Homo sapiens: one gene and its partners. The protein of the gene in region 3 purifies or fractionates together with the protein of the main gene of each other region. This does not show direct contact. Each region holds a gene or a part of one and is shown on either strand. Other genes may lie near its edges.

Evidence for each region. The genes of interacting proteins can lie anywhere in the genome.
Region 1: the proteins of TUFT1 (region 3) and DZIP3 purify together in Homo sapiens (affinity purification with mass spectrometry, with the first as the bait; one large-scale study listed by BioGRID). This does not show direct contact.
Region 2: the proteins of TUFT1 (region 3) and VPS50 purify together in Homo sapiens (affinity purification with mass spectrometry, with the first as the bait; one large-scale study listed by BioGRID). This does not show direct contact.
Region 4: the proteins of TUFT1 (region 3) and BMAL1 purify together in Homo sapiens (affinity purification with mass spectrometry, with the first as the bait; one large-scale study listed by BioGRID). This does not show direct contact.

What each region holds. Positions count from the first base shown.
Region 1 is NC_000003.12:108,692,222-108,696,221, forward strand, and holds the end of DZIP3 (E3 ubiquitin-protein ligase DZIP3), read left to right. Parts: intron 1-1,138; 3' UTR 1,139-2,619; downstream 2,620-4,000. UniProt on the Homo sapiens protein: E3 Ubiquitin ligase proteins mediate ubiquitination and subsequent proteasomal degradation of target proteins.
Region 2 is NC_000007.14:93,294,057-93,299,246, reverse strand, and holds part of VPS50 (syndetin), read right to left. Parts: intron 4,703-5,190; coding exon 4,611-4,702; intron 2,506-4,610; coding exon 2,411-2,505; intron 2,103-2,410; coding exon 2,004-2,102; intron 1-2,003.
Region 3 is NC_000001.11:151,556,378-151,561,567, forward strand, and holds part of TUFT1 (tuftelin), read left to right. Parts: intron 1-1,031; exon of another isoform or gene 1,032-1,614; intron 1,615-5,190. UniProt on the Homo sapiens protein: Involved in the structural organization of the epidermis. Involved in the mineralization and structural organization of enamel.
Region 4 is NC_000011.10:13,367,481-13,372,670, forward strand, and holds part of BMAL1 (basic helix-loop-helix ARNT-like protein 1), read left to right. Parts: intron 1-2,137; coding exon 2,138-2,287; intron 2,288-4,682; coding exon 4,683-4,929; intron 4,930-5,190. UniProt on the Homo sapiens protein: Transcriptional activator which forms a core component of the circadian clock.

The DNA.
Region 1 (4,000 bases), on a different chromosome or scaffold from region 3:
TTTTTTCTGCCCCTGCTTGGCACATGACAGAACATGGGCATAGACAGACTGGCTATTGGTAATCCAGTCCTGGGAGATGATCAGGAGGCAGTACTCAATCCTACTTTCTTCTCTACAGCTTCCCATGGGCTAAAGAATTTACATGTCTGCCCACAGCAAATGTACTCAGGCTTCTACACTAACATAAGCCCACGGAAATGAAACAGAAAGGGACAGTTCATATGTTTCTGAATAGATCCAGTTGAATAGTCTCATTCAATTTGAGACTGTTGAACAACTGTTGTTGTTCTACATACATTTAAAGTCAGGGCACATGCGTCACTGCTTATTTTTCTTACTTGACATATTCCCTGCATTTCCATGTCTGCCTGTCCTTTAGATAAACAGTAAAAGTTTCCCATGTGCCAGTATTTCTCAAATGGTTTACATCAGAATCACCTGGAGGACTTTTAAGCTAGATTGTTTGGTCCCATCCCAGGGATTCTGAATCAACAGGTTTGCGATGGGTCCAGATAGTTTACTTTTCCAAGTTTACTAACAAGTTTGCCAAGTTCCCCCAGTTTATTACCATTAGACCATACCTTTTTGTCCAATCATTTAAAACAAATTTTTATATAATAAGTTTTATTTGTATGTAATAAATTTTATTATATAAAAATAAGTTTTAATATATATTATATAAAAAGTTTTAATAAATACCTAATATATTATTTAATATGATAAAACTTATATTAAATGAAATTTTATGCTGTTCTCTTGTCAATCTGTCTTTTGTTATCTTGCTGGTGTGCCTGTCATGTGAGGGACTGCAATCTGATATGCCTGTTTTCCACAGTCAAAGCAATTACAAGAGAATTGTTACAATTACCCAGTTATGTCAAGAGATTTTTTTTTAATTCACTAAGGTAGAGATAAGGAGAATGTATTAAAATAGGATATTTTAATTATAAATGCATGACTGGGGAGGGGGTATTGTTTTTGAATAAAATATGAGGTTATTTGCCATGACAAAAAAAAAAAGAAGTAGGAAAATCCCATGGAAATTTATGTTCCTTCTAACTTTTAAAACTACCTAAAAAATATAATTGATTTAAATTATATCTCAATATTCCCCATTCTTTTATATCCCCTTAAATAGGTACCCATGAAGAGATTATGAACTACTTGAAGGTGGAGACTGTACGGTGGTGTGTTGGAGCTGGCTTGTAATGTCTTATGAGTGACAATCGTTAGTTTGAGGAATTTTGTGAGACAGTTGTCAAATTGTTGCTAGCTTGAAATCTGCGGCAATTGGAGTATTTACACCATAGAAATGCTATAAGTGAAGACCTACCTTTCCCTTAAGAGCTAGTTGTTAAACCTTTACCAGCATACCACTGGACCTTGTCTAAAATTTCTTTGTGTTCCCAGTGTCTTGCCCAGTAGATACAAGATAAATATTGCCAGAATCAGATATCAGGAAGTAGTAAGAAAAGGAGTTAATATGCAAACTAAATCACTCGCTCAATTGAATAATTGAGATCTTCTGTTCATTTGTTCCTTGGACCTTAATCATTTGCATTTTGGAGAAAATTTTTTCTGCTTTAAAAGTCTGTAATTTCAGTTTTTGTGTCGGGGAGAGGGAAAAACTATTTGTCTGTAGTTGCTTTTTGTGACAAAGTGAATACCCACTGGGCTAAGTTTCATATCTAAAGCTTGTCACTAAGAATTTTCATTTTTAGGGGTCAAAAACCTATTTTGAAAATAGTGTTGTGTGAATGCTGTAAGTGTTGTACATGTCTCTGGTTTCAGAATTAAAAGAATTCAGAGTTACCTTGTGAGATAAATGTTCTTTGCTTCATATTCACAGTTTCACCTCCATTTAAATTTATGGGGAAGAATAAATGTTTCCTGACTCAGAAACAATTTTGCCTCCATATTTCAGTGCAAATATATTTTGAAGTTACTTTTAAATATTTATTTAAAACCTCTGTTTCTGTAACTGTATGTTAAACGTATTCTTCTGTAATGAGAATAGACTGGAACATGTGAGGGAAAAATATTTAAAAAAAGATGGCAGTCATCTAGACATGTAAAATGCCAAGAATGTCTTAGAATTGCACAATTTAGAATTTATAGAGCCTTTAATCACCTTGTCTAGCACCTTGTATTAGTCCATTTTCATGCTGCTGATAAAGACATACCTGAGATTGGGCAATTTACAAAAGAAAGAGGTTTAACGGACTTACAGTTCCACATGACTAAGGAGGCCTCACAATCATGGTGGAAGGCAAAGAGGAGCAAGTCACATCTTACATGGATGGCAGCAGACAAGGAGAGAGAGCTTGTGCAGGGAAACTCCCATTTTTAAAACCATCAGATCTCATGAGGCTTACTATCACGAGAACAGCATGGGAAAGACCTGCCCCCGTGATTAAATTATTTCCCACCAGGCCCCTCCCACAACATGGAATAATGGGAGATACAAGATATTTGGGTGGAGACACAGAGCCAAACCATATCACACCTTAAGGTCATGGTCATATAGCTAGTTATCTTGTAAAACCAATGTTTCTTAGTTCATACTTACAACTGCAATTTCACTTTCATTTAGAAAAGAATAAATGTTTCTTAATTGAACAACTATTTTATCTGTGTATTTCATTATAAGCATATTCTGAAACTACTTGAAATCTTTACTTCAAATGTATCTTTCTGTTTAATTGGGCTTAAACTTTTTCTACTGTTTTGAGAAACGTTAGGAAAATGGGAAGGAAAATATCCAAGAAGACAGTTATATAGACTTATAAAATGCCACGATTGTTTTAAAATAACAGAATGCCAAAGTTCATTGGGTCCTTAGTGACATATAATACATTTTCTTATTTTACAGGTATGTTGTACCCAATGTCACATGGCCAGATAGTGGCTAGGCCAGTCTCAGTACTTGAGGGTCTCTGATGCCTCATCACATGCTTTCTCCACAAACTCATGTTGTAATAGGGTATTGGTGTTGACTTGCCATGCTTAGCTCCAAGGATGGGGCCAGAGAACTTAATACAATAGTTGGTATATAGGGAGAATGTAATAGGACAGTGCTCCAGGAAGTTATATTTAATTCTTTAGGTGCTGAAGGTAATGGGATTATAGTTTTTGATGTATACTTTAACAGTAAAGACAATTGCAGGGGTCATTCTACCACACACAGTGATCACTGTCATGCCTGTGCCTACTGAGGGATGATCCAGAACACTCCACCCTGCTGAGAAATCCAGTGAGGACCAGAAAGCTCTTAAAGTGGAAATATTTCCATCAAAAACAACCTGAAAGTATCCGGTAATATCACTGCAGCTGCTGTTAGATGATATGTCTTAGATTTTCCTTCATATTTATTGTCCATGTGTGTAACATTTTATAGCTTCTATGGGACACCTTCAAATGTGTTTAGTACCTCATTTGATCCATGAATAACTCTGAGGTGAATGTTGTTATGCTTATTTTACAAATGATGAACCTGAGACTCAAGTAAGAGGGAAATAATTTGTCCAAAGTCATAGGTACAAAGTGGCATTCTGAGATTTGATTGGAGTCCCTTAGCTGGTATTCTCTTCATAGTTGCAGCCTCACTTTGGGTTGACTTCGTGCACACAAGAAATACAGTATTTTCTTCCTTTTAAAAAAATTTTATGATAAATTTTATTTTATGATTAATTCAGGGAAGGTAGGCTTATATTTTACCAGATTCAAAGTTAGCAAGAACCACCTGCATTTATCAAATACTCCTGGAATACCTTATCTGTGAGCCTCGTAGATAAGAATTCTAGGATCACAGTAATGTACTATTCTGGTTTATACCCAGATAAAAACAACAAATGAATACTAATTTATTATAAAGATACATAGTTTGATTTTCTTGAGTTGGCAGTTTTCAGTAACTAGTGCAGATTTGAACATGCTACTTAACAGAACTAATGAGCTCTTGTTCTTAATTATCCTGGACCACCATCACATTACATGATGT
Region 2 (5,190 bases), on a different chromosome or scaffold from region 3:
ACAAATATACCTTAGAACACATTGATGGTTTGCACCAACTTTACCAAATGACTTCCACTATAATTTTCCTGATGGCAACTGTCAGAGCGAAAATGACTACAGACAGGATAGAAACTAGACTACCTTAAACTTTTGTTTAAATACTAGGGAAAAAGAAGAATACTAAGTAATAATTAAATTTTTGCTGTTTAACCTGCCCCAATTTTTACAATATACAATACTGCAAAAAAACGGGTCAAGATGTCTAGGCAACACTTATGGAGACCTTTTAATCTGGCCACTTCATTTTACAATGCATAAAATCACAGGCCAGAGAGGTTAAAGGATTTGCCAATACCAGACAGTTGGTAAGCAGCAAAAAATGCGACAAGAACCCAAGTCTACTATTACTCAACCCAGCTTTCCTTCTAATAATATAGCACAGCCACATCAATGAGAAATAAGTTTCACAAATGTTTCTAAGAGAAGTTATTTAAAATGTTGAGTGTTTGAGGAAGATTTAAGTCATTCATTTCTGTATTTTCTAATTTTATTAATGTGAACTCTGTGAGGAATTTCCATCATGGTCAAAATGCCCCTAGCTAGTTGCTACAGATGACAGACACCTTTTGACAATAAGTAAAACAGAATGCAGAATGGAAGCTACTAAATAAATCAGTGTCTCTATATTGTACACACATCCTAGACACCAGGAACACCAAAAGTTCTCCCAGTTGTCATGTTGGATACAAAGCAATCTCTGGGAAGAGAGACATTTGGCATGCCTTCATACTGCAGGGAAAGTGAGGCTTCCGGCTCCTTTGTGCTTCCATTTTATTTCCCCATCCATGATTAACAGGCCCCTCCCACTTCTATACAGGAATGTTTATAGGGCCAGCCTTTTGTTTTAGTCAGGGCTTAAGTTTTAGCAGACAAGGAACTTATAAATAAAGGCAGTGTTAGGGCTTCCTGTTGGTCCCTTCCCACTGTTTCCCTGAGGTTTAGTCAATTAAATTTTTAAAAAATTTTTAAACATTCTCAGTCATGAAACTCAAAGGCTCTGCTTTAGTATAGTTCAATTTAAATCTTTTTCAAACAATTTACTTCATTGTTTACAATTAACAGAGATAACTTGTATTCAAATATATATAATAATTAATTAATCAATGGTTTGGTGTTCAGTCATCTCTCTTTTGACATGGCATATATCACTGTGAGCAGGTGTTGACTATGAACAAGGAGAAAAAGCAGAATTTCAAATCATGACTCTCTCTGGGACCAAATAACAAGGAAATCAAAACTTAAATTCAATTGTAAAAAGTAAAAGTTCAGAATAAAAAGTAAGATGAAACTCAACTCAAAGGACAAAAGGGATACAACTTGGGGTCTAGCTTATATCAAGAGAAATCTCATGTTAGCTCTCCCTTCCCTCAATTTATTGCTGCTGTAAGGATATAATCACACTGCTATTATAAACATTCTTTCCCACCTTCCTCCACTACCCAAACCATTCCTAGTCACTCTTTTAAATATTAGCAGTGATTGTTTTGCAAAGCAATGCAGTATACAAATTTGGATTTATAGGGGAATTCTGAATATCACATCCTCTCCTCTAGAATCCTTCTTACATTTAAAAGATAGATACTCTCAAGCACCCCCTCACTGAGCACTGCCTCTACTGATTTAACTTCCTTATAAGCACACCCATATGTATGCAGGTATGGAACAGTGGCCAAATTCTTTCTGTGAACCTTGATATAATAATCATGTTTTACTCATTAAAAAATCAGTTCAATATTTTAAGCCCCTCAAGACAAAAATATATTAAAATGTACAATGAATATGTAATGAGAACATTTCATCATATTTTGGTTAAAAAAATCCTTAACCATCTTAAAAAAGCTACAACACATTCAAATTCAAAAGTAATTGTTTAAAATCAATTAATGCTATAAGATTAAGTATTAGACAAAAGTATTCTCATTACCTAAATAAGTCGATTCATATCTTATTAGAGTTCTTACCTATGGTAATTCTTGAAATAATTGACACTTTGTTTTCTAATAGATTCCTGTAAAACTTCAGACTTGCTACCACAAAATTCTTCTCCAACTTGCATCAACCTAGTTGGATAAAAAGGTTTCAGTAAATTTCAGCAGCAGCCTTATAGAGAAAAAGAAGTGTGGTTTCTCTTTCTTCAAAGATAAAAAAAATCACTAAAATTTGGACATGTGAAAAAATTCTAAAGATCACAAATCCATAAAGGTTTACAAACACCCAAAGGGCAGAAATATTTAAATACACTCACAAACTTAGCAGCAAAAATTATCTTCATTTCCATAAAGAAGTTATAGATGATAACTCACTAGCTCATGATTTATCATGGTTGAATGACTCAAACTAAAGAATAAGACAAGATCTTAAATACTACCTGCTGATTATATCCAAAACAAAGATGAAATCATCATATTTGAATATAGACAAATCAGTTCCAAGCAAGTAGGTTTTTACTTTTAGCTGAACATCCTGTAAGGCAAAGAAAAAGAAAATCAAGCAAACCCAAAATATAGAAAATAAGTTATCAGAAGCATTTACTCTATAGTTCCAGATTAAAATGAGACAGGAATATATTCCTAATTTGTTAACGAATATCTATTTAGGCCAATAGCCAACATCCTTAAGGGATGTAATAGAGACAATCCCATTTCCTATACCAGGAATGCCATCAGGTTGCCAAACTGAATGGAAAGTAGCTACATAAAGTGCTAAGTCAGTATTTCAAAGTACACTGAATTACCAGAAATTCTATCATAGATTGTAAAATTTTACCAAAGTACACTTAAGGCCTATTGGGAGACTAAGTCAGAAACAAATCATATCTGATCCTGGGTGTATATTCAATAACTATAAGATTTTCCTTTCTTTTTATGCATAATACTCAGAAAACAGTCAGCCTAAATCCACAATTAATGATAAATTAAATATTTAATTTTAATAAATGTTTAATATGGTTATGAGTTTAATATAGACAAATGAGAAAATATATGTCAAACCTCTTACAACCACAAAAATAAATTTTAAATACTAAAGCATAAAATCAAATAGCATATCGAATACAAAATTATCAAAAATTAGAAGAGCACTAAATTATAAATATTAACTGATTCATGAAGAAATTTATGTTTTCAAAATATATTTTCCTAAACAATTTTTTTCAAAACATATCCTATAAAAGATGGTCAAGCTGGGCATGGTGGCTGATGCCTGTAATCCCAGCACTTTGGGAGGCCAAGGCAGGAATATCACTTGGGCCCAGGAGTTCAAGACCAGTCTGGGCAACATAGCAAGACCCCATATCCACCAATAATAATTTAAGAAAATTAGGCATGGTGGTGCACATCTGTGGTCCCAGCTACTCAGGAGGCTGAGGCAGAAGGATCACCTGAGCCCAAGAGGTCGAGGCTGCACTGGGCCATGACTCTGCCACCACACTCCAGCCTGGGTGACAGAGTGAGACCCTGTCTCAATCAATCAATCAATCAATCAAAAGAAAGAAAGAAAAAAAAAGATGGTCAAAATAAAGATCAGCCTCATTAGAAAAATCAAAAATACATTTTAAAAGACCATAACATGGCCAAAGGGTCTATAGTCTTCCAAGGTTCAAAGAAGTCCAAAAAGAGTAAGTTATCTTCAAAGAAATTACACTGTGATCTAAGAAGTAACAAATTATCTGATTACAACAACTGAGTTACTAAATTGTAAAGAAAAACTTAATAAGATACTGCTATGGTCTGAATGTTCATGTCTACCCAAAATTCCGAAGCTGAAATTCTAACCTCCAAGGTGATAATATATTAGAAGGTGGGGCCTTTGTGAGATGATTAAATCGTGAAGGTAGAGCCCTCATTAATTAGATTAGTTCCCCTATAGAAGGGACCCCAGAGAGCTCCTTCATCCCTTCCACTATTTGAGGATACAGCAAGACAATGTCTATGAACCAGGAAGCAGGCCCTCCCTCCCAACAATGCTGGCACCCTGATCTCTGACTTCCAGCCTTTAGAATTCTAAGAAATAAACTTCTCTGTTTATAAACTATGCAGTCTAGAATATTTTGTTATAGGAGCCCAAATGGACTAAAACCAGATATATTCAGCCAATAAGCATGTAAGATTCCCTCAAGGTACAAAGATCATTGACTGAGAAAAAAAGAATTATTCATTCTAAACTATAATCTGACCTAAGTATGCTATCTACTTAGTTACTCCTTTTCTAAAATTAACAGAAAAAAAAATTAAGAAAACACAGATAAATGAAATAATAAACAGAACATCTCACTGAGAAAGCATACATTTCTCTATGATAGTGGAAATTTGCTAGGCCTCTAAAACAAAAGATGTACTCAAGACATGTATGAATATTTCCAGTGGAGATTTTCAAATTAAAAAACTTTTTTCCTGCCACTTATAGTCCAAATACATTACAGAAATTAAATGATAGCCTAATTCCAAACAGAAACATATGATTAAATCTGCAAAGAATACATATATAGAAAACTTAAAACTGAATTTCTAAAACTATGACATGACATTTCTATTGCTTCTGTGAAAAAAATAATTTTAAAAAAACCAAACCTGCCATATTCGTGTAAGTCCATGTTCTAATTTCTTTTTTATGTAGCCACGATCAAAATTAGTTTCTTCAGTACCTATCATATTACTCCCTTCTGAAAATAAAAGACAATATATATTTTTAGATTTAATCCAATTTGTGTTTGTTTTCCAAATAATTTCTATTTGGCCTCTCACACATTGTAAGTCTATGTAAGATACAGTAAATATGTTTGATATTTATACAATCAAAACAATATCAAACAATAGGTATTAGACTTAAACCCATTTGGTGAGACAAATAAACGTAGACTATGAAATGCTAAATATACCTAAGACCACTGAGATCATATGTGACTGAGTTGGGATTCTACCTGAGTCAGTGTGGTCCCAGAGACCAGGTTCTCAATACTGCCTACTGCAAGACCATGTAAAAGGCTGTGAGAAGGGCATTACAGGACCAATTAACTGAATTATCAATTAATATGCGTGCTAAGAGGATAGTCTACATTAAAACTCAGGCGTGAGGTGATAATGCATATATTTTATATTTTTCATGATAAATAATAGTTTTATCCACTCCAGATAAATAATTTAACAATGT
Region 3 (5,190 bases):
CTTTCTCCTCCCCCTCCCCGTCTCCTCCCTTCCCACCCCCCAGCTCCTCTCCTCAGGGTCCTACTCCGTAGCCCAGGCTGGAGTGCTGTGGTATGATAGCAGCTAGCTACAGCCTCAACCTCCCCAGCTCAAGTAATCCTCCCACCTCAACCTCCTGAGTTTCTGGGACAACAGGCACACAACACCATGCCTGGATAAGAAAAAAACATGTTTTTTTGAAGAGAGGGGCAACTTTGTTGCCCAGTCTGGTCTCAAGCTCCTGGCCTCAAGCAATCCTCCCACCTTGGCCTCCCAAAATGCTGAGATTACAGGCCGGACACAGTGACTCACGCCTGTAATCCCAGCACTTTGGGAGACCAAGGCAGATGGATCACTTGAGGTCAGGAGTTCGAGACCAGCCTGGCCAACATGGTGAAGCCCCCTCTATATTAACATATAAAAATTAGCCAGGCATTGTCACGGGAGCTTGTAATCCCAGTTCAGTTACGTGGGAGGCTGAGGTAGGAGAATTGCTTGAACCTGGGAGGCAGAGGTTGCAGTGAGCCGAGATTGCGTCACTGTACTCCAGCCTGGGTGACAGAAACAGAATTAGTCTCAAAAACCAAACAAAATGCTGAGATTACAGATGTGAGCTATGATGCCCGGTTCTGTTTTTCATTTATCTGTTTTCTTTTTCCTGCCTTCCTGTGGATTAACTGAACACTTTTTAGGATTCCATTTTTATTCATTTATAATGTTTTTGAGTGTTATCTCTTTGTATAGACTTTTTAGTGGTTACTCTAGGTATTATACATTATGTATACATAGGTTATCACAGTCTCCTGGTGTTGGCATTTTACTAGTTTGAGTGAAGAAGAGAAACCTTTCCTTCCTTTACATCCCTTTACCTTCTCCCATTTATGATACTAAATATTTAATAGTATAATATTATCATATTTAAATATTTTCTCTGCATACATTTAGAACCACATCAGACATTGTTATACTTTTTGCTTTAATCATCAAATGTAACTTAGAAAACCTAAGAGGGGCTTTCCAGCCCCAGCCCCGGCCCCTACAGCCACCGAGATGTTGATGCCTAAGAACCGGATTGCCATTTATGAACTCCTTTTTAAGGAGGGAGTCATGGTGGCCAAGAAGGATGTCCACATGCCTAAGCACCGGGAGCTGGCAGACAAGGATGTGCCCAATCTTCATGTCATGAAGGCCATGCAGCCTCTCAAGTCCCGAGGCTACGTGAAGGAACAGTTTGCCTGGAGACATTTCCACTGGTACGTTACCAATGAGGGCATCCAGTATCTCCGTGATTACCTTCATCTGCCCCGGAGATTGTGCCTGCCACTCTATGCTGCAGCCGTCCAGAGACTGGAAGTCCTCAGCCTAAAGGTCTGAAGGGTGAGCGACCTGCAAGACTCACAAGAGGGAAAGCGGACAGAGATAACCTACAGACGGAGTGCTGTGCCGCCTGGTGCCGACAGCAAAGCTGAGGCTGGGGCTGGGTCAGCAACCGAATTCCAGTTTAGAGGTGGATTTGGTTGAGGATGTGGTCAGCCACCTCAGTAAAATTGGAGAGGATTATTTTGCATTGAATAAACTTACAGCAAAAAAACTTAAAAAAAAAAAAAGAAAACCTAAGAGGGGAAGGAAATCTTGTTGTATTTACCCATCTTTTTTCAACTCATGTTTCTTTCTTCCCATTATTTCAAGTTTCCTTTTTTTAAAAAATAATTTCCTTTCTGTTTAGAGAACTTTTTAAGCCATTCTTTTAGTGTAGGTCTGCTGGTGAGAAATTCTCTTAGTTTTCCTTCATCTGAGAATGTCTTGATTTCCCCCTCATTTCTGAAGGATATTTTCCTTTGTTACAGGATATTTTCCTTTGTCAATTCTGAATTGACCGTTCTTCTCTTTCAGCATTTGAAAAATAGTATGCCACTTCCTTCTACTCTCTGTCATTTCCGAAGAGAAAATAACCTTTGAGGGATCCCCTCAAAGGTTATTTTCTCTGCTTTCAAGACTTTTTCTTTGTCTTTAGTTATCAGAAATTTAATTATGATCTATCATGGCATGAATTTCATGTTTATTCTGTTTGAAGTTTGCTTGGCTTCTTGAATCTATAGATTTGTGTCTTTTGCCAAATTTTGAAAATTTTTGGTCATTATTTCTTTGAGAACATTTTCAACTGACCCTCTTTCTCCTCTCTACCTGGAATTCTGATGGCTGGATGGAATCATCTCTCAGTGCCCCAACCCAGCCTAGTTGTCTATGCTCTTCCAATTGGAATGCGTAGGTTTATGAAACAGACCAGACTTGACCTTCATTAGCTAATAACCCCTTTGTTCTGACTGAAGGATGCCCTGCCTTTTCCCAGCCTGCCTCCATAGAACACTATGGGGAGATAGTGTCCTTTTTTTTTTTTTTTCTTTTTGAGACGGAGTCTTGCTCTGTTGCCCAGGCGGGAGTGCAGTGGTATGATCTTGGCTCCCTGGAACCTCCACCTCCTAGGTTCAAGCGATTCTCCTGCCTCAGCCTCCCTAGTAGCTGGGATTACAGGTGCCTGCCACCACAGCCAGCTGAGTTTTATATTTTCAGTAGAGACGGGGTTTCACCATGTTGGCCAGGCTGGTCTCAAACTCCTGACCTCAGGTGATCCACCCACCTTGGCCTCCTAAAGTGCTGGGTTTACAGGCATGAGCCACTGCCCCTGGTCGAGATACTGTTTTAATAAAAGTGCAGGTATGTCCTGGGAAGGAAGAATTTGGCAGCCATTCTGGCTATTTTGAAATCATTTCCTCTTTTTTCTTTTGTAATATTTTCTTGACCTAGATGTCATGGAGCATTCTCTGTGCATTCAGAAAATACCTTTGCTAAGGGCTGTGGCATACAACAGCTCTTGAGGAGTTAACAGAAGGGGTAATTCTTCACAAAACACAAATAACTGAGAGGCAGATGCCATGGGAGGCCTTGTGACGCTGTGGGAGCTCAAGGAGGGGAAGATGTGTTTCCCACAGGATGCGGGGTAGCATCTTGGAAGATGAGGCATTTGAACATGAACTTGAGGAACTTGGAGACGCCTTAGGTGAAAATGGGAAGAATAGATATTTAAGGCACAGGAAATGATGGGAGCAAAGGCACTGAAGTTGGAAACCATGGAATGTATTGGATAGGGCACTGAGAGATGGTAGCAAGAGGTGTGAGTTTACCCAGACTGTGGAAAGCCTTGCATGCCACTCTAAGGATGTGGCTTTTATTTCATAGGAATTAAGTGTTTTCATAAAACCAGCTACTTTGCTAGGGTTGGGAAGGTTTAAGGGCCATTGTGACAGTGTCTTCTGTCTTCCCAATCCAAAAAGTGGGAGGATGCTGATGTTTCAGTGCCACCCTCCTGTGTGGCAGAGAGTAACCTCCATACATTTTCTCATTTTCTTTTTCTTTTTGAGACAGCATCTCACTCTGTCGTCCAGGCTGGAGTGCAGTGGCGCGATCTCAGCTCACTTTAACCTCCGCCTCCCTGGTTCAAGCGATTCTCCTGCCTCAGTCTCCTGAGCAGCTGGGATTACAGGCGCCCACCACCACGCCTGGCTAATTTTTTTGTATTTTTGGTAGAGATGGGGTTTCACCATGTTGGCCAGGCTGGTCTCGAACTCCTGACCTCAGGTGATCCTCCCACCTCGGCCTCCCAAAGTGCTGGGATTACAGGCATGAGCCAGCACACCGGCAATATTTTTAAGTAATATTCAACAAAAAAACCCTCAGTTGGGGGCCGGGTGCGGTGGCTCACGCCTGTAATCCCAGCGCTTTGGGAGGCTGAGGCGGGAGGATCACAAAGTCAGGAGTTCGAGACCAGCCTGGCCAATGTGGCGAAACCCCGTCTCTACTAAAAATACAAAAATTAGCCAGGTGTGGTGGCAGATGCCTGTAATCCCAGCTACTTGGGAGGCTGAGGCAGGAGAATTGCTTGAGCCCAGGAGACGGAGGCTGCAGTGAGCCAAGATCGTGTCACTGCACTCCAGCCTGGGAGACAAGAGCAAGACTCCATCTCAAACAAACAAAAAACCCTCAGTTGGATGGTAATATACCCCTTTTACAGATAAAAACATCAAGAGTTAAGTATCTCACCAAAGACTGATTTCTTCTCCACCAAGTTGGAACGTTATCTTCTCTAGACATTTGGAAGGTTAAGAGGGTTCCTTAAAACCTGTTACCAGTAAGATGTCATTTATGCAGCTGGGCCTCAAGGCAGGGGATGACCAGATGACCTCAAGATCACTTTCATTCTTGGATAGCCCAGCACCTATTTCTCTTCATTGTCTGGGAGAGGCATATACTCCATCCTCACGCTGTCACAGAATGGAATCCAGAAGGAGCCTGAGATATACTTGGTCCAACTTCCTTATTTTTCCAGTGGGAACCAGAGATCCATAGTGGCTAAGCCCCTCATTCACTTCCATGCATAGTGCAGGTGATTTACTCTGCCTTGTTAGCCTTCTCTCAACGTTATCATCTTCCCAATCTACAGGCCCTTACTTTTCCCTCCTACCACGTTTTTCCTTTCAGGTTTTTAATTTTCCCTGCAAAGTATTGTGTGTGTGTGTGTGTGTGTGTGTGTGTGTGTGTGTGTGTGTGTGTGAGTGTTTGAGACGGAGTCTTGCTCTGTCACCCAGGCTGGAGTGCAGTGGCACAATCTTGGCTCACTACAAGCTCCGCCTCCCGGGTTCACGCCATTCTGCTGCCTCAGCCTCCCGAGTAGCTGGGACTACAGGCGCCTGCCACCACGCCAGGCTGATTTTGTTTTTGTATTTTTTAGTAGAGACGGGGTTTCACTGTGTTAGCCAGGATGGTCTCGATCTCCTGACCTCGTGATCCACCTGCCTTGGCCTCCCAAAGTGCTGGGATTACAGGCGTGAGCCACCGTGCCCGGCCTTTTTAAAAAAATCTTCTTTGAAGCCCGGGCAACATGGCAAAACCTCATGTCTACAAAAAATACAAAAATTAGATGGGCATATTGGTGCGCCTGTAGTCCCAGCTACTTGGGAGGCTGAGGTGGGTGGATCACTTAAGCCTGGGAGGTTGAGGCTGCAGTCATGCGCGCGCGCGCGCACACACACACACACACACACACACACACACACTTCTTTGACTTATGAAAGAAAACCTGCTTCATTCTTTGAAATTAGGTTGATCTCTAGATGA
Region 4 (5,190 bases), on a different chromosome or scaffold from region 3:
TCTTGAGGTCAGGGGTTTGCAACCAACCTGGCCAACATGGCAAAACCCCGTCTCTACTAATAATACAAAAATTAGACAGGTGTGGTGGTGCGTGCCTGTAATCCAAGCTACTTGGGAGGCTGAGGCAGGAGAGTTTCTTGAATCCAGGAGGTGGGGGTTGCAGTAAGCTGAGATTGTACCACTGACTGCACTCCAGCCTGGGTAACAGAGCAAGACTCTGTCTCAGAAAAAAAAAAAAAAAAAAAAAGAATGAGAACACAAGGGAGATTACTGGGCTCATTCCGGCTCCACCATTCACTAGCTGTGTGACCTTGAGCAAGTTACTTAACCTCTCTCTGTCTCAGTTTTCTCATTTATGGAAGAGTACCTATTTCTTTGGGTTGTTGTGAGGATTGAAAGTGTTAATGTATATAAAGCAGGCAGAACAGTTCCTAGCACATAGTAAGAACAGTATCAGTGTGGCCTAATGTCTTGCTCCCAAGCTGTCCACGTTAATCCCTGGAAAAAAATACCACCAGATAATCTCCTTCAAGTCATCTCTTTCATTACAGCACACCGCTTGTTCCTAAAAGTAAAATGCAGACTTTGGTATCTGTTGTTCTTTATAGTCTAGCCTTGGCTTTTTTAAGTGACCTTAGGAGAAAAATATGAATGGCATTTGGGCCTTGCCTTTGAGGCTCTTAGCATATAGTCAGAGAAATGAGACAGACAGCACCCTGCATAGTAATAGGTACAGCCATAGAAATAGTGCCAGGCATAGAGAACGGATGATTAATTCTCATGTGGGCGCAAGGACAGGCATCACTGAGTAGATGACAACCGAGGTGGGTTTGAAAAGATGAATTAATGTTTGCCAGGTAATGAAGGGAGGAACAAAGAGGAAACAATCTGTGCACAGGTGCAGGGGTGTGGAGCCACATGGCTTGCTTGGTGCTATTGGACAAAACGTGCACGGAGGGGAAGGGCTGAACCATGAAGACCATTTGTTCTGTGGGGACACAGTGAAGAGCTCTGAGTTGGGTGGGGCAGGCTCGGATTGGCATTCTAGGGGAGATCGCAGAGCTGGCAATGTGGGAGGTAGATGGGATGGGAGGAAGCCCAGAAGGAGCCCTGGGCAGTGGCCATTCCTCGGCACACTTGCTCGTGTGATGGCCATGGGTGTGTTTTCCCTCGGCTTCTGTACTGACACCTAGCCAGTGTTTGGTAAGGAGGTGTGCTCCTCAGAATCACCTGGGAGCTTTTCAACATAGTCATGCTCCACCCCCAGAGATTCTAATTTGGTTTTTCCAGACAGCACAGTCCAATAAAAACATAATGCAAACCACAAACATGAGCCACATATATAATTTCATATTTTCTGGTAGCCAGACTTTAAAAAATAAAAATAAATGTAAAATTAACTCCAAAATATTTCAGCATGTAATAATTATAAACAACTAATAAGTTCGTTCACATTCTTTTATTTTTCTATACTGTCTTTGAAATCCTGTGTGTATTTAACACTTACAGCACATTTCAATTCAGAAAAGCCACATTTCAAGTGCTCAGTACCTGCATGCAGCTAGTGGCTAATGCATTGGACAGCACAGATCTAGAATGGGGTCCAGGAATCTGTAGGTTGATCATGCATCCAGGGTATTCTGGCCTACAAGCCAGGTTGAGAACTTAAGGCAGTCCGGCTCCCACCTTGCCTTCCCAATATCCATATCCTACCCATCCTTCAGTGCCAGCCCAAGTTCCTTCTCCTCTGGGAAGCACAGGTTGTCTTTGCCATTTATTTGGCACTAATCATACATCACCCTGTCCTATTATTAATCTTTTCTTGGTGCACCTCCATTTGCCCTTTGTTAGCCATAAGCGTCTATTGGGCAAGAACCCCATACTATATTTCTTTTCATCCCCAGAGTACCTAATCCATTTATTTAGTAGCACACTCTGTGATTTATAAACATTTCCAGACTGACAACACACCTGTCCATGCTGCATCTGTTAAAGCCTAAACTTGGGAGATATTTATCTCATGTCATCATTATAAAACAGTGAGGCAGGCAAGAAAAGGCTTTGCTCAAGGTCACACTCCCCCTCCTGACAGACAACACTGCTCTCAGTTTATCACATTTTGTGTATTGATTTGCAGCTGGACTTCCAGTTAAAACAGATATAACCCCTGGGCCATCTCGATTATGTTCTGGAGCACGACGTTCTTTCTTCTGTAGGATGAAGTGTAACAGGCCTTCAGTAAAGGTTGAAGACAAGGACTTCCCCTCTACCTGCTCAAAGAAAAAAGGTAACAATTTAACAGTCCATTAAAACCCTGTGACAGGTGAAGCATGCTTTCTGCAGCGGAGCTCTCAGCTGGGCGTTGGTTCCATGGTTTCTGGCTGGCCAGAGTGGCAGGTCCCAGGACTGCAGACAGGACCCTGCAGTCCTCCCTATGTGTAGGGCAGTTGGGAGCAGAGGAGAGAGCTGAAAAGCCTGATGGCAGAGATTTGTGGAGAGGCCTCCTCTGTTTAAATTGTGTTTCTTTTAACATGATTGAGGAAGAATACTCTCAGCCACAATCCTAACTGCCTTATGAACAGCCACCAGTCCACCAAAATTACTCTGAGCTCACCAGTGACCTTGATGTTGTTAAATGCGATGAACATTTTTCCTTTGTCTTCCTTCTTGAAGTGTTCTCTTCTCCTGGATTCCATGAAACCACATTCTTCTTCCTCCTCCCCGACCCCCTGCTGCTACAGGCTCTCTTGCTGGCCCCTTTGCTGGCTGCCCCTCTCTGTCCTGGGCTGCATCTCTGTCTGCAGTCTCTCTCTGTTGGTCATGTCATCTACTCCCTCAGCTTTAAATGCCAACAACTTCCACATTCATATTTCCAGCCTAGACTTGTCTTTTGAACTCCAGATTCATAAATATACTGCTTACTAAATCAACCTGCTTTGGATATCTCAGGGGAGTCTCCAACAGGATACGTGCCGAAGTAATCACCTGAGCCTCTCCTCCAGCATAAATGGCACTGCCATTCAGCTGGCTGCTCATGCTAGAAGCCGGGGAGGTGCCCTCACTTCTGCTTCACCACCCCACTCTTCAATCCCGTTAGTTATGAAGTCCTGCCACAATGAGTCCCATCTGCAAAAGTTCTCTGAAATGTTTGTCCCTTTCCATGCTGCCTACTTTCACTCAGCTCCAGGCTGCCCCCAACTCTCACCAGGTCTCATAAAGTGTAGACCCACATGCTCCCCACCCCCAACACAGCAGCCAGGATGATCTTTTTATCAGTCCCCTTTTAAAAACCCTTCAGTGTTCCCTATTGTTCTTGAAGAAAAGCTCAAAATATTTAACGTGACCATGCAGCCCCCGACCCTGCCACTAAGCACATGTGAGCCATGTTGACTTCCTTTGATGCCTCAAGCCCCTTCTGGGCAATGCTTCTGCACATGCTGTCGCTTCCTGGTTGGAATTTCTTCCCTCTCCCCATGAACTCCCTTCACATGGCTCTCTCCAACCTCAGACTGCCTTATGTCTTATAGCACCCTACTGGTTTGCTTTCTAGTGCTTTCTTATACTTGCTGTTATATAGTTATTTGTGCGATTATTTGTTTAAAGTCTGTCTCCCCCACTAGGCTGTAAACTCCACAAGGGCATGTCTGATTTGTTTTTCACTCTATTCCAGTAACCAGCACAGACTCCACGCTTGGCAGACACTCCATAGTGGTTTGCTTGTTGGTGAAGTCTATAGGTGCTCCACATTTAATGTGTCCCAAATCGAACTATCTTTTTTCTCTCTCTCTCTTCTAGTCTGTTTTCTTTCTTCTCTGAGTCAGTGAATGACACCAGCAACCACCCAATCCAGAAAAGTTAGAGTCATCTTCATTTGTTTCTTTCCCTTAAGCCTGATATTCACAGCAAATCCCAACAGTTTGATCTCAGAAATTTCTCCTGCTTTCTTTCTCTGCTCCCTCTCATCTTCACTGCACTGCCATAGTTCAGTCCTCCTAATCTCTTGCTGTATTATAGCCACTGGCCCCTGAATCAGCCTTCCTACTTCTGTTTTCTACTGTCTTCCAGTTCATACGTCACTCTGCTCCTACAGCATCCAAACCACAATTTGATTTTGCTGTTTCTGCACTTAAATACCTGTAGATGCTCTCCATTTCCTGCCTTAAAAAGACAGACCAACATTGGTTAGAAAGTAATCCAAGGCCCTTTTAATCTTCCTCCAACCTGCCTTTCCAATTTGCCCCTCACTCCCAGTACCTCCAATTTCACTTCAACCACACAGAGCTCTTGGCCAGTTCCTATATAGGCTGTGCCTCTGTGCCTGTGTACGTCATCAGCCTTTATACATTCTAGTCCCTCAGCCACTGCTCATCCTTCTTGATCCACCTCCTCTACTGGTTTTTTGGGGGAGCCTTCCTCTCCCTAGGAAGAGTTAGATATTCCTTCCTTGGTGTATGTAATGAATGTCCATGGTATAACTGGCCCTACTTAAGCATTCTGACACTGGATGACAGTTTGTTTCTCTTTCCGTCTGCCCCTTTCATTAGATGCTTACTTCTGGAGAGTGAAGCCTTGATTTTTTTTTATTTTTTGACTCCCTACCTACATCCCATCCCACCATCGGCCGTGTACACCTCCATGGCCCAAACCTAGTGCTGACACTAACCACGAACTTTGCTTTCTAGCAGATCGAAAAAGCTTCTGCACAATCCACAGCACAGGCTATTTGAAAAGCTGGCCACCCACAAAGATGGGGCTGGATGAAGACAACGAACCAGACAATGAGGGGTGTAACCTCAGCTGCCTCGTCGCAATTGGACGACTGCATTCTCATGTAGTTCCACAACCAGTGAACGGGGAAATCAGGGTGAAATCTATGGAATATGTTTCTCGGCACGCGATAGATGGAAAGTTTGTTTTTGTAGACCAGAGGTAAGAGTCTACATACTACCCTTGAGCAATGATGGTAGAGGATTTTCAACCCTGATCTAAAAAGCAGAGAAGACTGGGCCATCAGCTGGCTTTTCTAAGAATGAAGAAAGAAAGAAAAAGCTGGGTGCAGTGGCTCACACCTCAAATCCCAGCACTTTTTGAGGCCAAGGTGGGTGGATCACTTGAGCCCAGGAGTTTGAGACTAGCCTGGGCAACGTGGCAAAACCCTGTCTCAACTAAAAATACAAAAATTAGCCAGGC